Regions from separate parts of the Homo sapiens genome. Here all the other regions are reported to be linked to region 2. The links are microRNA targets in miRTarBase. Many come from high-throughput screens and were not tested one by one. Region 2 holds a microRNA gene; each other region holds the end of a gene's coding sequence.
Evidence for each region. Region 2 holds the annotated microRNA hsa-miR-379-5p (UGGUAGACUAUGGAACGUAGG, at 1,986-2,006, shown strand). A microRNA usually pairs through its seed, bases 2 to 8, with sites in the 3' UTR of a target mRNA and lowers its output. Matches are read on the target gene's strand: a 7mer-m8 pairs with bases 2 to 8, a 7mer-A1 pairs with bases 2 to 7 and ends in A, and an 8mer does both.

Region 1 (3,081 bases), not on the chromosome of region 2:
ATAACACATACCCTGTCCTGCCTCAGCTTATCAGGTACAAGCAGTATTTCCTCCCTAGAGCATCTTTGGAGATTAACTTTTCTCATTCAGTCTTTCCAGAGTAGGGAGGTTAATTGAAGGCTTGGTTCCTAGTCAGGTCATTGAGTACCAAGAGGTCCATTTTTCTTTTGAGCCTCGCTGGCATTGCCTGCTAGAATAGGGCAGTGTCTAACTTTCTCCTTCTTATTTATCTTCAATAGAAGCTGCTTCCATGTCTGGTGATGATAACCTTGAAGATGACTACTTACTCTGAAGTCTGGGCTTCAGTTTGCTCAGCCATCTGCTTTGCTGTGTGAGTGCAGCTATCATCTATCTGTAGCAACAGGAAAGTAATGAGGGCGACAGTGGGGCACTTGCTTTGATTCCCTCTTTCCCATGCCCTGTCTTAATATACTTCTCTGCAGCTGCTTTCCTGCAGCTTAACTTGCTCTCAGATTGAGCACTTTCAAGCTTTTTGTGTATTTCTGTCTTTGGCAGGATTTGGCATAGGAATTGGTGCATGGAGGAGAGGAGTGTATGATAAAGGATCCATGCAGTCCTTCCTTTATTACACATATAGTCTGGCTTGCTGTGGACCAAATTAATATTCTCCTCCCATCAGACTACAAAAAAATTGGACTACCACGCTACAAGTGTGTCTCCCCCATTCCACCTCCGGATCCCTCCCCAACCCTCCAGTGTTTGAATACTGCTGTGTTACTTCCAGGCCGTTCAACGTCAGGCTCAGTCCCCTCTACCAGTCATGATTCACATTACTACTAGGCTGTATCCTTTTTGAGGCTGGGAAACAGTCAGGCTTTCGTCATTGGAAGTGATTCTGCAGACTTCTGACTCACCTTATCAGGTGACTCTGGTTAAGGAAAGCTTTTGAGTGGTGAACTCAAAGACTCCAGTTGAATCAGGAGGCAAAGGCAAAAATTAGCATAATTATATTTAAAAGCCTCAGGAAGTGGGAAGAGAATACTGCCTCCCAGCCTCAATTGCTGATATGTTATTGGAGACAGGCTTTTGAAACTGCTCCAGCTATTTCTCTGTAACCTTTAGTTAAAATATAAGTAGAAAGGAGACAGGAGGCTCAGGAAATTTTCTAAATTGCTAGTATAATATCTATATGTATACACACATATACACCCGTGGAGAGAGAGGAAGAGTATACAGTCCTGTTTGAATCATTTGGAGGATTTTTTTGCTGAATAAAGTTCTCAAGAAAATTTTCTAAAACCAAATTCTGATTGAATCACAAGGTGGAAGCAGGCTGTGAGCCTAAATCTGGTGAAAACTGCCAACTGCCTCACAGAAAGGATCACATCTATGAAACAAGTGTCCCTCCCATATACACATTCATATTCTTTCTCTAAAGTCACTTCAGAAATAACCATTCACTGGCTGGGCACGGTAGCTCACACCTGTAATCCCAGCGCTTTGGGAGGCTAAGGCAGGCAGATTACTTGAGGCCAACATGGTGAAACCCTGTCTCTACTAAAAATACAAAAAATTAGCCAGGCATGGTGGCATGCACCTGTTGTCCCAGCTGCGTGGGAGGCTGAGGCAGGAGAATTGCTTGAACCTGGGAGGTGGAGGTTGCAGTGAGCTGAGATCATGCCACTGCACTCCAGCCTGGGTGACAGAGAGAGACTCTGTCTCAAAAAAATACAAAAATACAAAATACAAAAATTAGCTGGGCGTGGTGGCAGGCACCTGTAATCCCAGCTATTTGGGAGGCTGAGGCACAAGAATCACTTGAACCTGGGAAGCGGAGGTTGCAGTGAACCCAGATTGCACCACCACACAACCTTGTCTCATAAAAAAAAATTCACTAGGAACCAGAACCAATTTAGGTTTAGGCTGTGTGAGTAAGACCCCACCTATACTATTCAAAAGAAAAGGCCCAGATTAAGATTCTAGAAACCTGGATTCTAGGAGCAGCTCTGGTAAGTAGCTCATGTAGTCTTGGAGGAATCTTTAAGGAGTAGATCTCCACTGTAAACTTTTTGCAAAATTTTAACGTGTTTCCTTATAGCATCTTTCTGACAGTACTGTGAGGCTCAAATGCGAGGCTTGAAGTACTTGAGGTGCTTGAAAGTAAATATAAATGTATAGTAATGTGGATGGTAGAAAAATGGCAAGTGAATTTTTTTTAAGGATAAAGCAAGATAAACTAGAAAATTTAAAACTAGCACATAAGGATGCCTTACACAGGTCTTTTTTTTAAATTTAGGGATTAGTAACGTCTACCTCTATACTACATGGCAACTATATTTTCTCACAACCACAATTCTCAAAATTTATTTTCTCAGAAAAATCTCAGTATTAGCCAGGCACCGGTGGCTCACACCTATAATCCCAACACTTTGGGAGGCCGAGGCGGGCAGATTGCTTGAGCTCAGGAGTTCGAGACCAGCCTGGCACCATGCTGAAACCCGTAAATACAAAAAAATTAGCCAGGCATGGTGGTGTGTGCCTGTGGTCCTAGCTACTTGAGAGGCTGAGGTGGGAGGATCGCTTGAGCCCAGGGAAGCAGAGGGTGCAGTGAGTGAGCCAAGATTGCACCACTCCACTCCAGCCTGTGTGACACAGCAAGATGCTGTCTCCAAAAAAAGAAAAGAAAAATCTCAGTCCCAATTAGCAGAAAGGCTCTAGTGAAGGAACAGTTCTGGTGAGTAGTTCAGGTACTCTTGGAGGAATCTTTAAGGAGCTTCCATTTATTTGATGTTTCAGATGTTGCCTGCAATGAACTCGCTGAAGCATGCTCAGCCCTGGAACTGGTGCTACCAGAGTTCCGTAGGGAACCTTTACTCTTTAGAGGTTCCCTGATATAAATCATTCATAAGACTTCCTACCCTGGAAAATGAGTAATGTCTCATTCTTACCTGCAGTTTGTTACTATGTATAAAAGTCTTTTTCTTTAATATGCCTTTAAGTCTTACCTGTTTACAGCCCATTCTGATGGGTTCTTTGTCATTCTGTTAGTATAACCCAGTACTTTTCCTGCTGCCTGGAATGCCCTCTTCTATGTTACCTATTCTGTCCGTTGAGATCCCC
Region 2 (3,081 bases):
TCCTGTCTACACCCCATCCAGTCCACACCCCGTCCAGTCCACACCCTGTCCAGTACACACCCCATCCAGTCCACACCCCATCCAGACCACACCCCATCCAGTACACACCCCATCCAGTACACACCCCTTCTAGTCTACACTCCATCCAGACCACACCCCATTCAGTCCACGTTGCATCCAGTCCACACCCCATCCAGACCACACCTCACCCAGACCACACCCCATCCAGTCCACACCCCATCCAGTCCACACCCCATCCAGACCACACTGTATCCAGTCCACGCCCCATACAGACCATACCCCATCCAGACCACACCTCACCCAGACCATCCACGCCCCATCCAGACCATACCCCATCCAGACCACACCTCACCCAGACCACACCCCATCCAGTCACACTGCATCCAGTCCACACCCCATCCAGACCACTACTCCATCCAGACCACACCCCATGTAGTTCACACTCCCCCAAGTCAACACCCCATCCAGTCCATGTTCCATCCAGTTCATGCCCCACACAGACCACGCTCCATCCAATCCACGCCCCACCTCGACCACTACTCCATCCAGTTCATACTGCATCCAGTCCATACTCCATCCAGTCCACTGTCCACCCCGACCATGTTCATCTGACCCATGCTCCATCCAGTCCATGCTCCATCTGGTCCTCTGCTTTTACCCTACAGTGTCCACTCTTGTCCTCTCTCTTCTTGGCTTAGTCCCCTCATCCTTTATCTTCTAATCTAAACTTCTGAGAAGTTTTCCTGATTGGCGAGAGCCTCTTGTTAAATGCTCTCTGCTCCTTCACAACACTTTGGCCTCCTCACATTTTGAAACCAATTCTCTGCAATAACTACTTTAATGTTGGTTTTCCCCACAACGCTAGCAGCTGCAGGAAGGCAGAGACTGTGTCTTATTTACTGGTCTAGCTCCAGCACCTCACAGATGTTCAGTAAACACAAGTTTATTTCTACGAGTGACCACATGGAAAATGTGAGTGGGCTGGAGGAGAGGTGCAGGCAGGGTGCTGTGGAGGGTCAGGGATGCAAAGGCCTGAGTTGGCTGAGGTGGGGTCGGGCTCGTGGAAGAACTGCCATTTGGTTGGGCTTCAGAGAGATGTAAGCAGACACGGGGTCTGGGTGGAGGAGTAGTGCCAGCAAAGGCATGTGGACAATGCACGGGGTATGGAGGGTAATCTCTTAGACTAGACTAGCTCACACTTGGAGGGAGCAGGGGAGCATGATGCCTTGAATGACTTCCTAAGGAGTTAGGACTTCAACAACTGAGTTGCAGGGCCCCGTCTACACTGGGGTTCAGGACTTTAGAGGACAACCGAGCTGTCCTGCAGGGCTGCTGAGGGTTCTGCCCTTGTCCTTTCCCTGGAGGCTAACAAATCATTGCTTTGCATTCCATTCACATGGGATAGTTGTGCCATGAAAGGGGATGGAGAAAATCAAGGAAGACCTCCTGAAGGAGGTGGAGAGGTTAATCAGGAGCTGGAGGAACGCACTGCCCACTCAGCTCTGTGGTTTGAGTCTCCAAAGGTGGTCTAGAGCATGGCGAGGACCATCGGAACTTGGGTGAGCTAGGGAAGTTTTTACCTAGAGGTTGAGGGTCCCCTTTTATATGATGAACTGTGCTCTTGGAGTGTCCCATTTGCCATGCAGAACAAAACACTGCCCTTTATCTTGATGAAGAGATAGTTGACCACATAATGGCCAAAGCATGGTCAGTATTGTACATTTTGCCTTGTCGCAGTCTTTCCAAGTTGACATGGCCTTCCTGGAGGAATTACCACTTAGGGTAGAGGCACCCCTTCCCCCATCAATGCCACTGCCCCACATTGGAGGAGGGGTTGTTTATGTTCACCATGTGCCTGCTTCCAATGCCAAATCCAGCCTCAGAAAGCTTTCTGGAAGTGACGCCAACTTCAGGGGCAAGGCCCTGGTTCTGGGGTCAGCACCATTCCGTGGTTCCTGAAGAGATGGTAGACTATGGAACGTAGGCGTTATGATTTCTGACCTATGTAACATGGTCCACTAACTCTCAGTATCCAATCCATCCTCGGAGGGCTTCCTGGAGGTGTTGCCAACTTCAGGGAAGAGAACACGTGGTTTAGCTTCAGCACTGCTCCACGGCAATTTCTGTGGCTCATGGTTGATGTCTGACTTGTGCAACAAGGCCTGGCTCTTCTGGGCACTAAATGCACTCTCTGGGGAGTTTTCTGGAAGTGATGCAACTTGGGCTCAAGACACCGGTTCCAGCCTCAGCCGTGGTTCTGGAAGAGATGATTTGCCATGTGGCCTGTGCGAAAGGAGGGATTTGTGTGAGATGGGCTACCACTTCCCAGTAGCCTGCCAGCTTTGGAGGGCTTCGTGGAGCCAATACTACCTTCAGGGGGACCCACCAGTCCATCCTTCATTCCGCTGTGTGGCATTGAAGAGTTGCTTTCCTGTGTTGAAGTTTTCTGTTTATACCAATGTCCACCTCTGATCAATCTTACATTCAGTCTCAGGGTTTTCCGGAGGCAGTGCCAAGTCTGGGAATGAGACAGTGGTTCTGTCCTTAGGGAGGTGGTTGACCAAAACAACTCCTGCTTTGTTCATGAAGATGGCATGGTGGTTACTGCTCAGAATCTAATCCAACCTAAGAGGACCTCCTGGAAATGCCCTTGGTATTGAGGCAGATATGGCCTTAGGGCACTTTTTTTTTTTTTTTAATGCCCAAGACTAGAGCTCACTAATAGGTAAGATCTGGGCCTCAGGTGCCCAGTACTGTTTCCTTGGCCTGGTTAGTGTAACTAGATGGATGTTCTTTGGTTGCACGTGGGCCATTTTGTATTTCTGATTTTCTCCCCACTCCCCTAACCAGCTCTGTTAGCCATGTGCCATGTCCTCCCTCCCATCTACCCACTCCTTCAGACCCAGCACAGTGCGCCTGGCACACAGCAGGCACTTAATCAGTATTTATGGAGTGATGAAATCCATATCATCGTCCACTTCTTCTCAGTGGGACTTTCGGCCTCGAAGGGCTTCCTGGAGGAGTTGCCAGTTTTGGGGATGAGCCACTGCTTCGAGCATT
Region 3 (3,081 bases), not on the chromosome of region 2:
AGGGTGGAGCACTTCTCGCGCCTAATGGTTGGTTGGTGGTCTTGGCCTCTAGTTTCACTCTTTGAGGATAGAGTGCCATCTGCAGCCTTCACTGTTGGGATCTGAGCTGTAGTGGCTGTGAATAGCCTAGAGTGGTCAGGCAGCCCACCTCGGCACTCCTGGGGTGGGGGTGGGGACAGCTGCTTAACCTTTATTCTTGGTCGGTCTGTCGGCAACTTTGGGAACCACCAGTAGGATGTGGTTAAGATTCAGTTCTTGCTGAGCTAAGGAAGCATTTCTCATTTCTTTTTAATTGTCTGGCTCACTTCTAGTCCCTAACTAAATGCTCACTCAAGAGTTTTAGCTTGAATGTCAAATGTCAAAAAATTAATTGGGTGATTTTTCTCCATTTCTAGGATAAGAAGAAAGAGAAGAAATGAAGTGACCATCCAGCCTTTCCCAATTAGACTTCCTCTCCTTCCACCCCTCATTTCCTTTTTGCACACATTACAGGTGGTGTGTTCTGTGATAATGAAAAGCATCAGAAAAGCTTTTGTACTTTGTGGTTTCCTCTATTTTGAATTTTTTGATCAAAAAACTGATTAGCAGAATATAGTTTGGAGTTTGGCTTCATCTTCCTGGGGTTCCCCTCACTCCCTTTTTTGTCAACCCCATCTGTAGCCTCTTCCTCTACTCAGGCAGTCGACCCGCCACGATGAGAAGTGGGACCAGCAGAGGGCGCCAACTTCAGGAGTCCGCTTTCCCACCAGGCTTCATTCACCCAGTGGACCTGAACTGTTTGGTAGAGCCACCCGGCCCTTCCTTCCTCATTGTTGTTTGGTATGCGCACAGTTCCTGTGGGACTGGGCCGTGAGTTTTCCATTGGAAAGAAGTTCAGTGGTCCCATTGTTAACTCAGCCTCAAATCTCAACTGTCAGGCCCTACAAAGAAAATGGAGAGCCTCTTCTGGTGGATGCTTTGCTCCCTCTGAGCTGCCCATGCTGGTCTGGCAAACACACCTTTCTGCTTTGCCTTCACAAAAGTAATGTGTTCCCTTTCCCACCCCTTGCCTGACCCTCAGGGAGTCAGCCTGCTTCCATCCATGGGTGGGAAGACTTCAGCACAAAGGAAAGACTAATTCTTGTCAGGCATTTTTGAAAAGGCTGATTATGTGTATCAAGGTACAGCATCGTAGGGTTCCCCTAAACTTGCCCTGTTTTTGTTTTTTTAGTTTGTTATCCCCTTACTGAGCGGCCTCTACTAGGTGGCTGTGATTAAATGTCCCAAGCAAGGATAGGGAAGGGGAATGGTTGAGCCTCTGGAGATCATTGTAACCAATCCTGCCAGACCTGTTTGGGGCAGTGGGGAGCAAACCTAGATAAGGACCTGTTTGGGGCAGCAGGGAGCAAAATCTCCTTTAACAACCAAGCAGTTCCTCATTCACATCAACAGAGCGAGGCTGTGATAACTTAGGAGGCAGCAATCCTAATAGTCCTTCAGTGCATTTTAGTCTGTCTCCAACTGGACACCAGTAGGTAGTGTCAAGCCAGAGATTCGGGGCAGTAGATAAATGTTCATTTTACTGATGCACTTTAGTTTTTGGTCTGTTACCTGTTTTCCAGAAATTTGTGGCCTTTTAGGCGGGAGTTAGGCGACCAAACCAGTGAGAGCCCCAATCCCTGCAGTTTTGTGGCTTCAAGTGTGGGTGGACAGTCCTAATGGGGATCTCCAGCTCCTTCCTGTGGGCTGCCACAGACAGCTACCCCCAGAAGGGTCAATGTTGGGAGTGGTTGTGGCTCTGAGCTGCTCTACAGAGCTTCAGTGTGAGAGGATCGAGCCATTGAAAGCTCATTACCAGTAGGACATAATTTTTGGCTCTCCCTATTCACAACCAGTGCACAGTTTGACACAGTGGCCTCAGGTTCACAGTGCACCATGTCACTGTGCTATCCTACGAAATCATTTGTTTCTAAGTTGTGTTTATTCCTGGAGTGACATGCCACCCCGAATGGCTCACTTTCACTGAGGATGCTGTCCTCTGATTTAGCTGCTGCCTCCAGCCTCTGGCTTGAGAACTTACTAAAGGCACTTCCTTCCTGTTAAACCCCTGTTAACTCTCCATAAATTTGGTGATTCTCTGCTAGGCCTAAGATTTTGAGTTAACATCTCTTGAAGCCAAACTCCACCTTCTGTGCTTTTTGCTTGGGATAATGGAGTTTTTCTTTAGAAACAGTGCCAAGAATGACAAGATATTAAAAAAAAAAAAGAAAGAAAAAAAAAAAAACACCTACTTTTAAAGAAAATACCTAACAGATTTTTAATATAGTTATCTCTACCACTTTCTTTTCTAGTTTCTTGATTTTCAGCTCAGGCTGCATTCTAACTCATACTGTGAAGACAAAGGTGTTTTTGATTCAGAAATATATGAAATCTGCATAGTCTTAATTTGTAAAAAATAAAGAAAATTCCTTAACCTTTCCTGGTGTTTGTGTTAAATTCAAGGGTACAGCTGGTCATGGAGCTTGTGATACTGCCAGGGTTTGCTACTGGGGGCTGGGAGTGGGACACGATTGAGTTCGTGTCATAAGTATGAACAGAGACAAAGACCTCCCACTCTGTAGCCCCAGCATGCCACAAATGTTGAGAATTTTCTCTGTCAAATATGTAAGCCAGTTTTTTTTCCAGTCCTCTCCACCCCCTGCCACCTTTGCTATATGTTGTTTGTGGTGATATGTGCAGTTGGTTCAGATGTGCAGCCAAGCTTTGGAGTTTGAGGATGCATAATGGAAAAAAGGCAAATGATACCCACTCATTCTGCAAGTATTTTTGTTCACCCACTGCTGCCCGGCTGTATTCTAAGTGCATTAGTTAATAAAGATGTAAAAGTTGGCCAGGCATGGTGGCTTATGCCTGTAATCCCAGCACTTTGGGAGGCCAAGGTGGGCAGATCTCGAGGTCAGGAGTTCAAGACCAGTCTGGCCAACATGGTGAAACCCCATCTCTACTAAATACACCAAAAAAAAAAAAAAAAAAAAAAAATTAGGCAAAGTGGCAGGCACTTGTAATCCCAGCTACTTGGGAGGCTGAGGCAGGAGAATTACT
Region 4 (3,081 bases), not on the chromosome of region 2:
TGTCTGGGCTGGGGTCGGGGAGAGGCAGGCAGGGAACCCTGGCCAGCAGCCCCCTGTCCCTGCCCCTCCTTCTAGCCGGAGTGACGGGGATCCTGGCCACAGAGCTGTTTGACCAGATGGCCAGGCCTGCTGCCTGCATGGTCTGCGGGGCGCTCATGTGGATCATGCTCATCCTGGTCGGCCTGGGATTTCCCTTTATCATGGTAGGCCCGCCCCTCCCGCTGGGGGCCCTGCCTTAGGCTGTGTCCCTGTCATCCTGAGAACCCCAGGGGGAGGCTTCCATCCAGGGAGACTGAGACTGAAAGGGAGGGGTCTTAGGGGAGCAAAGAGGGGGGCAAATGCCTCCTCACGACCTGTCATGGGCCTTCTGTTTAGGGGTTGATGGAGACACACCAGGTCTTGGGGTCTTTTTTAATCCGCAGGAGGCCTTGTCCCACTTCCTCTATGTCCCTTTCCTTGGTGTCTGTGTCTGTGGGGCCATCTACACTGGCCTGTTCCTTCCTGAGACCAAAGGCAAGACCTTCCAAGAGATCTCCAAGGAATTACACAGACTCAACTTCCCCAGGCGGGCCCAGGGCCCCACGTGGAGGAGCCTGGAGGTTATCCAGTCAACAGAACTCTAGTCCCAAAGGGGTGGCCAGAGCCAAAGCCAGCTACTGTCCTGTCCTCTGCTTCCTGCCAGGGCCCTGGTCCTCACTCCCTCCTGCATTCCTCATTTAAGGAGTGTTTATTGAGCACCCTTTGTGTGCAGACATGGCTCCAGGTGCTTAGCAATCAATGGTGAGCGTGGTATTCCAGGCTAAAGGTAATTAACTGACAGAAAATCAGTAACAACATAATTACAGGCTGGTTGTGGCAGCTCATGACTGTAATCCCAGCACTTTGGGAGGCCAAGGTGGGAGGATCAATTGAGGCCAGAGTTTGAAACCAGCCTAGGTAACATAGTGAGACCCCCTATCTCTACAAAAAATTTTAAACATTAGCTGGGCATGGTGGTATGTGCTAACAGCTCTAGCTACTCAGGAGGCTGAGGCAGCAGGATCACTTGAGTCCAAGAGTTCAAGGTAGCAGTAAGCTACAATCACACCACTGCATGCCAGACTGGGTGACAGAGGGAGACTTCATCTCTTTAAAACATAATAATAATAATTACAGACTCAGGAAATGCAGTGAAAGAAAAATACAGGTTGGCCAGGTGAGGTGGCTGATGCCTGTAATCCCAGCACTTTGGGAGGCCAAGATGGGAAGATTGCTTTGAGACCAGAAGTTTGAGACCAGCCTGGGCCACATAGTAAGATCCTGTTTCTACCAAAAAAAAAAAAAAAAAAAATTAGCTGGGTGTGGTGGTACATGCCTGTGGTCCCAGCTACTCAGGAGGCTGAAATGGGAGGATCACTTGAGCCTGGGAGGTCGAGGCTGCAGTGAGTCCTAATTGAGCCACTGCACTCCAGCCTGGACAACAGAAAGAGACCATGTTTCAAAAAAAATAAATACAGGTTGTAGTGGGTATGGGTATGCATACCAGGAGGCCCGACCTCGTCTGAGAGGGGAGTGGTCAGAAAAGAATTTTCTGAGGAATTGATGTTTTTAATCAACTTTATTGAGGTATAATTTATACATAACCAACTGCATCCATTTTAAGTATATATTTGGCGAGTTTTGAGTTCTAAGTATAGTTTTGGTGAGTGTATACACTTGGGAAACACCACCGTGATCAAGATGGAACCTTTACCCTACCCCAAGGCACCCACATGCCCATTTGCTATCAGTAACCCACCCCAGTCCCAGACCTGGGGAACCACTGACCTGCTTTCTGCCTCAATTGGTCAGATTTGCCTTTTTTCAGAATCTGAAGTCATTCCGTACTGTATGTACACATTTGTGTCTGGCTTGGCTCCAGATAAAGTTTTTGGGATTCATGAATGTTGTTGCACGTATTAGGAGAGACTCCTTTGTATTGCTGAGTAGTATTCCCCTCTGTGGTTAGACCATGATTTATTTATCCATCTACCTGTTGGTGAACATTTTGGCTGTTTCTAATTCTTGGCCATCATGAATAAAACTGCTGTGAATGTTCCTACAATAATAATTGTCTAAACATATGTTTTTATTTCTTTTGTGTCTTAGTCCGTCGGGCTGCTATAACTAAGAACCACAGCCTGGGTGGCTTATAAACAACAGAAATTTATTTTTCATGGTTCTGGAGGCTGGGAAGTCCAAGATCAAGGTGCCAGTGGATTCAGTGTCTGTTGAGGGCCCATGTCTTGATTCATAGATGGCGGTCTTCTTGCTGTGTTCTCCTAGACATGGCAGAAGGGGCAAGGGAGCTCTCTGGGGTCTCTTTTATAAGGGCACCAATCCCATTCATGCAGGCTCTGCCCTCATGACCTAATCACCTCCGAGGAGGCCCAAAGGCCCTACCTCCAAGTACCATCATATGAGGGATTAGGTTTCAAGGTATGAACCTGGGGAGGACATAAACAGTCAGTCTAGCTTTTTGGGTAAATGAATTGCTGGGCTTAATAATAAATGTATATTTAACTGTATAAAAATTGTTTTCCAAAGTGGTTGATTATATTGTTTCACATTCTCATTAATAATGTATGAGTTCTGGATACTCCAGATCCTCATCAGCACTTGGTATTGTCAGTCTCTTCAATTTAGCCATTCTAGTGAGTGTGTAGTGGTATCTTGTCATTTAATTGTGGTATTTCCCTAATGACTAATAATGTTTGACATCTTTTCATGTGCTCAGTATGGCCATTTGTGGGTTTTCTTTTATGAATAATTTGTTCAAATATTTTGTCTACTTTTTTTTGTTGTTGTTGTTGAGACAGGGTTCTCTGTCGCCCAGGCTGGAGGGCAGTGGAATGAACTCAGCTCATTGCAACCTCTGCCTCCTGGACTCAAGCGATCCTCCCACCTCAGCCCCCCAAGTAGGTGGGACCACAGGCGTGAGCCACCATGCCCTGCTAATTTTTGTATTTTTGGTAGAGATGGGATTTTGCCATGTTGGCCAGGCAAGTTTCAAACTCCTGACATCAAGTGATCCACCCACCTTGGCTTCCCAAAGTGCTGGGA

Region 1: miRTarBase lists TDRKH as a target of hsa-miR-379-5p. Seed matches in the 3' UTR shown: 7mer-A1 at 772-778.
Region 3: miRTarBase lists TMBIM6 as a target of hsa-miR-379-5p. Seed matches in the 3' UTR shown: 7mer-A1 at 2,311-2,317.
Region 4: miRTarBase lists SLC2A11 as a target of hsa-miR-379-5p. Seed matches in the 3' UTR shown: 7mer-A1 at 1,305-1,311.

Annotation. Positions count from the first base shown.
Region 1 is chr1:151,771,663-151,774,743 of GRCh38, reverse strand. It overlaps TDRKH (tudor and KH domain containing), which reads left to right. Exons shown (of 13, transcript NM_001083965.2): 12 at 1-34; 13 at 240-1,250. The coding sequence ends at 292. Among named protein-coding and RNA genes, the nearest start is that of OAZ3, 6.5 kb to the right of the region's middle.
Region 2 is chr14:101,020,086-101,023,166 of GRCh38, forward strand. MIR379 (microRNA 379) reads left to right here and starts at 1,981; the gene lies at 1,981-2,047. It overlaps LOC124903407 (mucin-2-like), which reads left to right. Exons shown (of 5, transcript XM_047432049.1): 5 at 1-3,081. The coding sequence ends at 719.
Region 3 is chr12:49,762,478-49,765,558 of GRCh38, forward strand. TMBIM6 (transmembrane BAX inhibitor motif containing 6) reads left to right here. Exons shown (of 10, transcript NM_003217.3): 10 at 396-2,457. The coding sequence ends at 419. Among named protein-coding and RNA genes, the nearest start is that of TMBIM6, 22 kb to the left of the region's middle.
Region 4 is chr22:23,884,227-23,887,307 of GRCh38, forward strand. It overlaps SLC2A11 (solute carrier family 2 member 11), which reads left to right. Exons shown (of 12, transcript NM_001024939.4): 11 at 76-203; 12 at 423-2,086. The coding sequence ends at 623. Among named protein-coding and RNA genes, the nearest start is that of MIF, 8.6 kb to the right of the region's middle.